Regions from separate parts of the Homo sapiens genome. Here region 2 is linked to region 1. The links come from fine-mapping of genetic effects on gene expression. A gene starts in region 1. The other region holds a variant in brackets. All regions are shown on one strand. Distances are from middle to middle.

Evidence for each region. PIP is the estimated chance that this variant, and not a neighbour inherited with it, causes the effect. A credible set is the group of variants that fine-mapping cannot tell apart.
Region 2: its variant is the best candidate, but not a certain one, in a credible set for the expression of JUN in whole blood (INTERVAL, PIP 0.87).

What each region holds. Positions count from the first base shown.
Region 1 is chr1:58,782,114-58,787,113 of GRCh38, reverse strand. JUN (Jun proto-oncogene, AP-1 transcription factor subunit) reads left to right here and starts at 3,067. Exons shown (of 1, transcript NM_002228.4): 1 at 3,067-5,000. The coding sequence starts at 4,044. JUN-DT (JUN divergent transcript) reads right to left here and starts at 1,963. Exons shown (of 2, transcript NR_108106.1): 1 at 1,809-1,963. RefSeq lists enhancers at 1,876-2,621, 2,848-3,107, 2,622-3,369, 4,778-4,957 and a silencer at 4,628-4,707.
Region 2 is chr1:58,997,427-59,002,949 of GRCh38, reverse strand. It overlaps the pseudogene PHB1P3. Among named protein-coding and RNA genes, the nearest start is that of LINC01358, 20 kb to the left of the region's middle. The variant C/T (reference allele first, on the strand shown) is at 2,897.

The DNA of each region.
Region 1 (5,000 bases):
TGAGACACCTGGTAGGATTATAGTGATCTAAAGAGGCATGGCCATGTGACTGCTTTGGCCAATGATGTATGGGCAGAAGTGATGTGTGCCATAAGTGGATGCTCTGACAGCCATGATGTTCCGAGTTCCTTCCCCACAGTCAGGATAGCTGTGAAAAGGGGTATCAACACGAGGCCTCCTTCAGCCTGAGCCCTTTAGTGACTACAATGAGCAGAGCTACCCTGCCAACCTACAACGGTCATGTAGCAGAAATGACCAACTTTCACTGGAATAAGCCACTGATATGTTAGGGTTGTTTGTTAGGGCAGCATAACACTGCCTTTCCTGACAGAACTGGGAGTGAGAGATAAGGCTGGAGAGAGAAGGAGTTGGATTGTGAAAAGCCCCTTCTCCAAGGCATAGGAATCGGAACTCTCCTGATTGTAAGGAAAAGCCAATGAAGGCTTCCAAGCAGGGGCGTTAACATGAACAGATTTGTTATTTTTTTGGATGAAATATGCTATTTCTCAACATAAGGAGAAGATCAGCCTACTAAACCACATGAGGCAGAGAGGAACACACAGAACCTTAGGCAAAAGATATATATTTATGCAAAGTCCTAAGTCTTGAAATTTCTAAATACAAGAGCTCTGAACGGAGTTACAGTCAGAGGATCAGGCAAGAAAATTTCTTCTATGCCACAAGCGCTATTTCCTCTGCAGATAACTAATACTCCACAAGAAAGTTTGCCAGAGTAGAGAAAATACAAAGGAATGTAACACAGACCTGAGGTCAATTTCCAGCTGCCTGTGTGACCTCAACAAAGATACTTAACCTCTCTGGGCCTATTTCCTCACATGTTAAATCTGGATAATAATATATGTCTCTCAAGACAGTTGTGGGGAGAAAACAGCGTATTTAAATTGCTTAGGAGAATGCCTGGCAGATAATAAGTGTTTAATACATGAAACTGATTTTTATTACTGTTATTAAAAAATATTTAGAACACCAACTCCCTGAATACAACAGAAAATGATTCAGGGCAACAGACAGAGGAGAATGTTCTCTCCTTGAGGAAGCAACTGGATCTTGTCATCACTGTATACCTACCTACCCCACCCCCTCCCCAGCTCAGTGCCTGGCTCACAGTAGGCTTTCAGTTACCCTCTGCAGATCAGTGAAAGCTAGGTGAGTGCCCGGAGTGAAGAAAAGTTGGCAGGTTTCCCACTGATACCAGCTGCTGTTGGTTTCTGAACACTCAAAGCCGCAAATACCTTAGGGCTGGGGGCAATGAACCCAAGGCTGAATTCCAAGTTCAGAAGCAGCGAAGTCTGAATTTAGAACCTAGGAACTTAAACTGCTGCAGGTCCAACTTCAAGCCCCAGTTTTAGACAGAGGCTTGGGAAAGATCTGACTTCTAACCCGGTTCCCCCTCCCCTCCTCCCCTCGATGCTTCTCACAGGAAAGTACACCTGGTCCTGCCAAATCGCACTCTTATATCCTGGCATCCTATCCAGGCTCTGCGAGGATGGAAACTGCGAGGCAGGGGAGGGAAGCGGGCTGTTTGGCCACCACCTCCCTAGTGCTGCAGGCGACCCTGTCACACTAACTCCTGGCAGCCCAGTGAGGTGGACGGCACCGGCCCCACCTGCAGATGAGGGAAATGAAGCTCGGAGGAGTTCCGTGATTTGCTTGCTTCACACTGTGGTAGCCTGGCCACGAAAGAACCAGGATTCCCGACTTCGGGATTCTTTCCACCACACACTTTCGTCCCTAAGGGGTGGGGGGCGGGGGGAGAATAAAATAACCGCGGAAAAGGAACCACTTACATGTGTCTAGCGCTTCCTAGAGGCTACCCAGGATATGCGCCCACCACCCGGCCGGGAGTGCAGAGATTTGAAGTCCAGGTTCTACCCCGGGCTCCGAGTACTACTGCGTGACTTTATGCGAGTGTCCGCCGCCTTCTGGGCTTGTTTTCCCGGAAGCAACTCGGCGCGGATGGAGTGTGTGTGTGCGCGCGCGCGCGCGTTATGTTGTGCGTGTTGTGTTAAGCGTGTGCGTGTTGTCCGGGGGCGGGAGGGGGAGTAGACTAACACCGGGGTTCCCCGAGTTTCGGATCGCCTACACGCTTGTTCCCATCTGGACCCTGTTACCCACCAATTGCGCCCACTATAAAAACTGCCCCTCCGAGGCAAAGCTGTGAACCCCCGCGCCCTTTCCCCCACGGTCCCGGAGGATGAAGTGGGGTGCAACGGAGACTCAGCTGAGCGTCCAGTTTCGGGCAATACAAATCTCTCGGCTTCTACGAGCAGCCAGACGACCCCGCGGACCGTCGCTCCTGAACTTGACCGAGATGCAAACTTCGGAGTGTTCTCAACGTGGGGGGCCGACTCTCGGGAGACCGCCCCTAAACTTAAGTCCCCTTAGGCTCGCCCCCACCTGGGACTTCACAGAGCCACCTTAAGGGCGGTATTCCCGCCCCCCCGGAAGTGCGGGGGGGTGGCAGCGTACTTGGATTCTCAGCCTCCAGCCCCGCGCGGTGGCGGCCGCCGGTGGATGACTTCGGGCCCCACAAGTGGGGAAACAACAACCACCCCTCGCCCGCACCCCTGGCCCAAAACAACTGGCCAGGTTCCCTGGCCTCCCGGGTCCCTGCATCCCCCGCATCCCCGTCCGCAGCCGTGAACTTGAGCCCCCCTCCATCAGAGGTTGCGAGCGTCCGCCCGCTCGCGGCAGCCACCGTCACTAGACAGTCAAACCCCAAGACGTCAGCCCACAATGCACCGGGCGGGCCGGGAAAAACGGCCCGGGGAGGGGACCGGGGAAGAGAGGGCCGAGAGGCGTGCGGCAGGGGGGAGGGTAGGAGAAAGAAGGGCCCGACTGTAGGAGGGCAGCGGAGCATTACCTCATCCCGTGAGCCTCCGCGGGCCCAGAGAAGAATCTTCTAGGGTGGAGTCTCCATGGTGACGGGCGGGCCCGCCCCCCTGAGAGCGACGCGAGCCAATGGGAAGGCCTTGGGGTGACATCATGGGCTATTTTTAGGGGTTGACTGGTAGCAGATAAGTGTTGAGCTCGGGCTGGATAAGGGCTCAGAGTTGCACTGAGTGTGGCTGAAGCAGCGAGGCGGGAGTGGAGGTGCGCGGAGTCAGGCAGACAGACAGACACAGCCAGCCAGCCAGGTCGGCAGTATAGTCCGAACTGCAAATCTTATTTTCTTTTCACCTTCTCTCTAACTGCCCAGAGCTAGCGCCTGTGGCTCCCGGGCTGGTGTTTCGGGAGTGTCCAGAGAGCCTGGTCTCCAGCCGCCCCCGGGAGGAGAGCCCTGCTGCCCAGGCGCTGTTGACAGCGGCGGAAAGCAGCGGTACCCACGCGCCCGCCGGGGGAAGTCGGCGAGCGGCTGCAGCAGCAAAGAACTTTCCCGGCTGGGAGGACCGGAGACAAGTGGCAGAGTCCCGGAGCCAACTTTTGCAAGCCTTTCCTGCGTCTTAGGCTTCTCCACGGCGGTAAAGACCAGAAGGCGGCGGAGAGCCACGCAAGAGAAGAAGGACGTGCGCTCAGCTTCGCTCGCACCGGTTGTTGAACTTGGGCGAGCGCGAGCCGCGGCTGCCGGGCGCCCCCTCCCCCTAGCAGCGGAGGAGGGGACAAGTCGTCGGAGTCCGGGCGGCCAAGACCCGCCGCCGGCCGGCCACTGCAGGGTCCGCACTGATCCGCTCCGCGGGGAGAGCCGCTGCTCTGGGAAGTGAGTTCGCCTGCGGACTCCGAGGAACCGCTGCGCACGAAGAGCGCTCAGTGAGTGACCGCGACTTTTCAAAGCCGGGTAGCGCGCGCGAGTCGACAAGTAAGAGTGCGGGAGGCATCTTAATTAACCCTGCGCTCCCTGGAGCGAGCTGGTGAGGAGGGCGCAGCGGGGACGACAGCCAGCGGGTGCGTGCGCTCTTAGAGAAACTTTCCCTGTCAAAGGCTCCGGGGGGCGCGGGTGTCCCCCGCTTGCCACAGCCCTGTTGCGGCCCCGAAACTTGTGCGCGCAGCCCAAACTAACCTCACGTGAAGTGACGGACTGTTCTATGACTGCAAAGATGGAAACGACCTTCTATGACGATGCCCTCAACGCCTCGTTCCTCCCGTCCGAGAGCGGACCTTATGGCTACAGTAACCCCAAGATCCTGAAACAGAGCATGACCCTGAACCTGGCCGACCCAGTGGGGAGCCTGAAGCCGCACCTCCGCGCCAAGAACTCGGACCTCCTCACCTCGCCCGACGTGGGGCTGCTCAAGCTGGCGTCGCCCGAGCTGGAGCGCCTGATAATCCAGTCCAGCAACGGGCACATCACCACCACGCCGACCCCCACCCAGTTCCTGTGCCCCAAGAACGTGACAGATGAGCAGGAGGGCTTCGCCGAGGGCTTCGTGCGCGCCCTGGCCGAACTGCACAGCCAGAACACGCTGCCCAGCGTCACGTCGGCGGCGCAGCCGGTCAACGGGGCAGGCATGGTGGCTCCCGCGGTAGCCTCGGTGGCAGGGGGCAGCGGCAGCGGCGGCTTCAGCGCCAGCCTGCACAGCGAGCCGCCGGTCTACGCAAACCTCAGCAACTTCAACCCAGGCGCGCTGAGCAGCGGCGGCGGGGCGCCCTCCTACGGCGCGGCCGGCCTGGCCTTTCCCGCGCAACCCCAGCAGCAGCAGCAGCCGCCGCACCACCTGCCCCAGCAGATGCCCGTGCAGCACCCGCGGCTGCAGGCCCTGAAGGAGGAGCCTCAGACAGTGCCCGAGATGCCCGGCGAGACACCGCCCCTGTCCCCCATCGACATGGAGTCCCAGGAGCGGATCAAGGCGGAGAGGAAGCGCATGAGGAACCGCATCGCTGCCTCCAAGTGCCGAAAAAGGAAGCTGGAGAGAATCGCCCGGCTGGAGGAAAAAGTGAAAACCTTGAAAGCTCAGAACTCGGAGCTGGCGTCCACGGCCAACATGCTCAGGGAACAGGTGGCACAGCTTAAACAGAAAGTCATGAACCACGTTAACAGTGGG
Region 2 (5,523 bases), 220 kb before region 1:
CAATAAGCAAAAAGGGCCCACTATCGCCCTGCCTTCAGCCTTGCCTGAGTCTACACTGTTGTCCACACAGCAAGCAGAGTAATTGCTCTAAAGTAAAGCATTGCAGTGGATTGTTCGTGTGGTTGACCAGTTCAGGATTTGGGTCTAGGCTGCCTGGTTTTCATCCCAACTCTTATTTTCTAGCTTTCTGACTTGGAGCAAGTTATTTAACCTCTCTGGGTTTCAATTTATCTCTAACTGAGGATAGGTGTGCAAGCTTCATAGGGTTGTTGTGTAAAATAAGTAAGCTACTACTTCTAGAAGTTAGAGCATTACCTGGCATGTGGTAACTGTTTAAGAATTACTAGCATCACCTGCGGGAAGCCCTCGAAGACCTATTCTTTCCTCCTCCCCTACGCTTTGTGCTTCCGTAAGATCCTGAGGACGCTTTTATCAGTGTTTATATATTTTAAATATATAGTGCTTACATAGTTAAAAAACTTGCTGGGCACAGTGGCTCATGCCTGCAATCCTAGCATTTTGGGGGGCTGAGGCGGGCAGATCACCTGAGGTCAGGAGTTCGAGACCAGCCTGGCCAACATGGCGAAACCTTGTCTCTACTAAAAATACAAAAATTAGCCGGGCGTGGTGGTGCATGCCTGTAATCCCAGCTACTGTGGAGTCTGAGGCAGGAGAATCATTGAACCCAGGAGGCAGAGGGTTGCAATGAGCCGAGATTGCACCACTGCACTCCAGCCTGGGTGACAGAGCCAGACTCCTTCTCAAAAATAAATAAATAAAATAAAATAAAAAACTATAAAATATTCACTATACAGGAAAATACAGACAATGTAATGAATGGTCATGTCTCTTTCATTTTGCTCTTCAAATCTTATCATTTTGTCATATTTGATTCAGATTTTTTAAGAAGAGTTCGAACATTACAGTAAAGCTGCGGCTCCTTGTGTGTCAATCTCCAATCCTATTCCCTTCTGTCACTCCCCAGATGTGGCCACTATCTGATTTTAATATTTGCTATTCCCTTGCAAACATTTATACTTTATCCATAAGCAATTGTAATAATTTTGCATATAGCAAAACTTTATATAAATGATATCATACTATAAATATCCAGCAATTTTCTTTCTTGGTCAACATTTTATCTTTGGGATTTATTCATGTAGAATTATGTACTCTATTTTTGTAGTTGCCATTTACCATGTTAAGGAAGATCCCTACTATTCCTAGTTTGCTGAGTCTGCCATAGATAGATATTGCTTTTTCTGCATCTATTATCATGTAGTTTTTCTTTAGTCTGTTAATAGGGTGGATTACAGTCTTTGATTTTTTTCGATGATGAATCACCTTGCATTCTTCATATTAATCCCACTTGGTTGTGAGCTATTATCCTTTTCATATGCTACTGGATTTGATTTGCTAATATTTTGTTTAATTTTATTTTATATTATTGTGCTGTGTCTGGTTTGGATATCAGGATAATGCTGGCCACTTAAAAGGAGTTGAGAATGTTCCTTTTCCCTATTTTTTGAAAGCTTATATACAATTAACTTTTTTTTAATGTTTGGTGCAATTCACCAGTAAAACCACTTGGACCCAAACTTTCCTTCATTGGAAGGTCTTTAACTATAATCTCAATTTCTTTAGTAAATATAGGACTACGTAGGTCATATATTTCTTCACTAGTGAGTTTTGGTAGTTTGTGTATTTTACGAAAATGGACCATTTTATCTAAGCTGTCAAATTTATGAGTTATTTATAGTATATCAATTATCCTTTAAAATCTGTGAGTTCTGCGGTGATAGCCTCTTTTTTGTTCCAGATATTGGTAAATTATATCTTTTCTCTTTTTATCTTATGCTTTCTTCATTCCTAAAGTCCAAGTATTTTTGTTGTTTTATCATTCCCTCTCCACCTGAAGAACTTCCTTTAGCATTTATTTTAGAGCAGGTCTACTAGTAACACATTTTGCTGATTTTCCTTTATCTGAGAATATCTTAATTTTGTCTTCGCTCCTGAAGGATATTTTCACTAGATATAGAATTCTGGGTTTGCAGCTCTTTTCTCATAGGCCTTTAAAAATGTTGTTTCACTGTTTTCTGGTCTCCACGGTTTCTGATGAGAAATATGCGATCATTGTTCCCCAATGTTTTCTGGTTTCTTTCAAGATGTTTTTCATTGTATTCAGTTTCATCATGTGTCTTGGTGTATTTTACTTTGAATTTATCTTGTTTGGGGTTTCTTGAGCTTTTTAAAGCTGTAAATCTATGACTTTCATCAAATCTGAGAATTTTTCTTTTTTTTGAGATCTGAAGTGATTTTACCTTTAATTCCGTCACTTTAAGCCAATCATGAAATTTCACAGTGATTTCTGGGGTGGGGGCAGAAGGAAGTCGATGTTAAATATCATCAGGGCTGTGGTCCAGTCAGCCTGTGGAGGTGCAGGCAAGGTGGGCCCTCACTGGGGCAGCTGGAGGAGCACGGACTGCCCCGCTGGCAGGTAGGTGATGTTCTGAGAGCGTGAGAGCTGGTAGGCGATGTCCTCCGCAGCTTACAGCTTGCGCAGCTCGATCAGGCCGTCCCCTGCAGTGGCCAGTGAGTTGGCAATCAGCTCAGCTGCCTTGGAGTCACCCTCAGCAGAGATGATAGCTGCCTTTTTCTGCTGCTTAGCCTTTTCCATCACAAATCTGGCCCTTTCTGCTTCCTGCTGAGCCACCTGTTTGGCTCCCACTGCTTCTGTGAAGTCCTTCCTGAAGGTCAGATATGTCAAGGACACGTCGTCCAGGATGAGCCTAAAGGTGGCTGCTCACTCCGTAAGGTTGTCGCTCACCTGCCTGGAGACCAGCTCTCTCTGGGTGATTAGTTCTCCAGCATCAAAGCAAACCACCACTGACTTGAG[C/T]ATCTCAGTTGTGATGGATGGCAGCACAGGCTCATCATAGTCCTCTCCGATGCTGGTGAAGATGCGAGGAAGCTGGCTAGCGACGGGCTGGAAGGGGATGTGCAGTGTGATGTTGACATTCTGTAAATCTTTGCTACCAGTGATGACTGACACATTACGTGGTCAAGAATGGCAGTCAAAGATAACTGGTTTCTGTACCCAGAGGATGAGAAAGTGAGTCCCTTCCCCTACCACAATTTCCTGTACTCCACGGAATCGGTCAAGGATGACAGCTCTGTGCCCAGCATCCACATTATATAAGGCAGAGTTCACCACGCCTCCTGCAACAGCTTAGACCAGGCCAAACTTGCCTATGGACTCAAACACTTTGGCAGCCATGTTTTCTTCTGCTGGACCTCTCACACCTGTTTCCACTTTGACCTCCACATGAATTCCCCCGAATCTGAGAAGTTTTAGCCGTGATTTCTTCAAATATTTTTCTAATACTAATCTCTTTCTTCTCTTTTCTATCATTCTGTCATTTCACTCTGATGACATGAATGTTACATCTTGTGATATCAGGCCACTTGTCCCTGAGACTGCTTATTGTTTTTCAGTTACTTTTCTGTATTTTTCAGATTAGATAGCTTCTATTGATCTATCTCAGTGGTCAGAAAACCATGGTTCACAGGACAAATCTAGCTTGCCTGTTCATTAAATAAAGATTTATTGAAACAGCTATTTCCATTAATTTACATATGATCTATGGCTGTTTTCATGCTATAATTGTAGAGCTGAGGAGTTATGACATAGTTTATGGTCATTCAATTCTAAAATATTTACTATCTGTTCCTTTACAGGAAAAGATGGCCAGCCTAATTCCTCATCTTCAAGTTCACTGACTCTATCTCCATTATGTTACTGATCTCCTTCAGCGAATTATTTTATTTCTATCATTGTATTTTTCATTATAAAATTTTCATTTTTTTTCAATAGCTTCTCTTTGCTGAAAGTGTCCATCTTTTCATTTGTTTCACTATTCACTAATGCTCTCTCCCACTTCATGGAGCTTAATTATATTTGTGTGTGTGTGGAGGAGGTGTGTATGTGTGTGTGTATAACAGTTTCTTAGAGTCTTTGTTTATTCCACCATCGGTACCTTGGTCAATTTGGTGTTGGTGTGTGTTGATTGGTTGATTGTCTTTTTTCTTTGAGAGTTGGTGAGATTTTCTTGTTTTTTTTTTTTTGTTATTTGTGTATTGATTAATTTTGAATTGTATCTTAGACATTTGAATTATGTATAATTCTCTAGGTCCTGTTAAGATTCTTTGAAGAGGCTGGGTGTGGTGGTTTGCCTGTAATCTCAGCACTTTGGGAGGCCAAGATGGGTAGGTCACTTGAGCCCAGGAGTTTGAGTCTAGCCTGGGAAACATGGCAAAACCCTGTCTTTACAAAAAATACAAAAAATTAATCAAGCATGGTGGTGTGCACCTGCTGTCCCAGCTACTTGGGAGGCTGAGATGAGAGAAGTACCTGAGCCTAGGAAAGTTGAGGCTGGAGTGAGCTGTGATCATTCCATTGCACTCCAGTGTGGGTGTTGCACTGAGACTCTGTCTCAAAAAAAAAAAAAATTCTCTGAAGAATGTTGATTTTTTTCTAAAGCAATTAAAAGAGTTAGGCTCATACCCCAACTCCCAACTTACTTTTTGTGGGATGAGGTTCTAATGCTAGCTTCATTTTCAAAGCCTTTGCAGTGCTATTAGGGTCTGCCCCATGTGGACACTATCCAGGGGCTGGTCTGGGGCCTAGGAAACGGCCCACATTGTAGTTCAGACTCAAAGCCTTCATTATACTGTTTTGGGTCAGTTCCTTGTACGTGAATCCTGCGAGTGAGCCCAGGATTTCATACCCAGATTTAAGAGATCTCTTTTTCCATCTCCCTCTTCTCTATGATTTCCCCACTCTTCCATATGCAGGGTCACATTTTCCTGTTGTGCTGGAGAGAAAGCCAGGGTTTTAGCCTCCTGTGCTGTCAGACATTTTTCACAACTGTGTCCACTTTGAGAATGAAGCAGTTAGAAAAAGGAGGAACAAAATAATGGAGACTGCTTCACAGTCTTTAGACTGCAGGGGTCTATTTTCCCAGTTCCTTTGGTCAGAGGGAAGAATTTTCTCTTACACTTTTTATTGCCTAAGAACCACTGTTGCCACCACTGCTGCAGGAGTATAGTTCATGACTAAGTCTGGCTTTGGCACCAAGCTAGGAGAATAAAAAAAGTAAAATGAAATGAGAGTACCCCTACAGTCTTTGTCCTGAAGGGCCCGCCCTCCCAGTCTTCCAGCCAGAAAGAGAGAGTTCATCTTGATGTTTTTCTGTCCATGTTTACTGCACACTTCAGAGATCCAGGCTGCCCTAGGGTTTCAGCTAGGAGATATAGCAGGGGGAGAAAACCTCAGGACACTTAACCCCCTAGTGATGGTTGATTTTATGTATCAACTTGACTGGGCATTGGGGTACCCAAACATTTGATCAAACATTATTTTGGGTGTGTCTACAAGGTTTTTTGTGAATGAGATTAATATTTAGATTGACAGACTGAGTAAGCAGATGGCCCTCCCCAGTGTGTATGGGTATCATCCAATCAGTT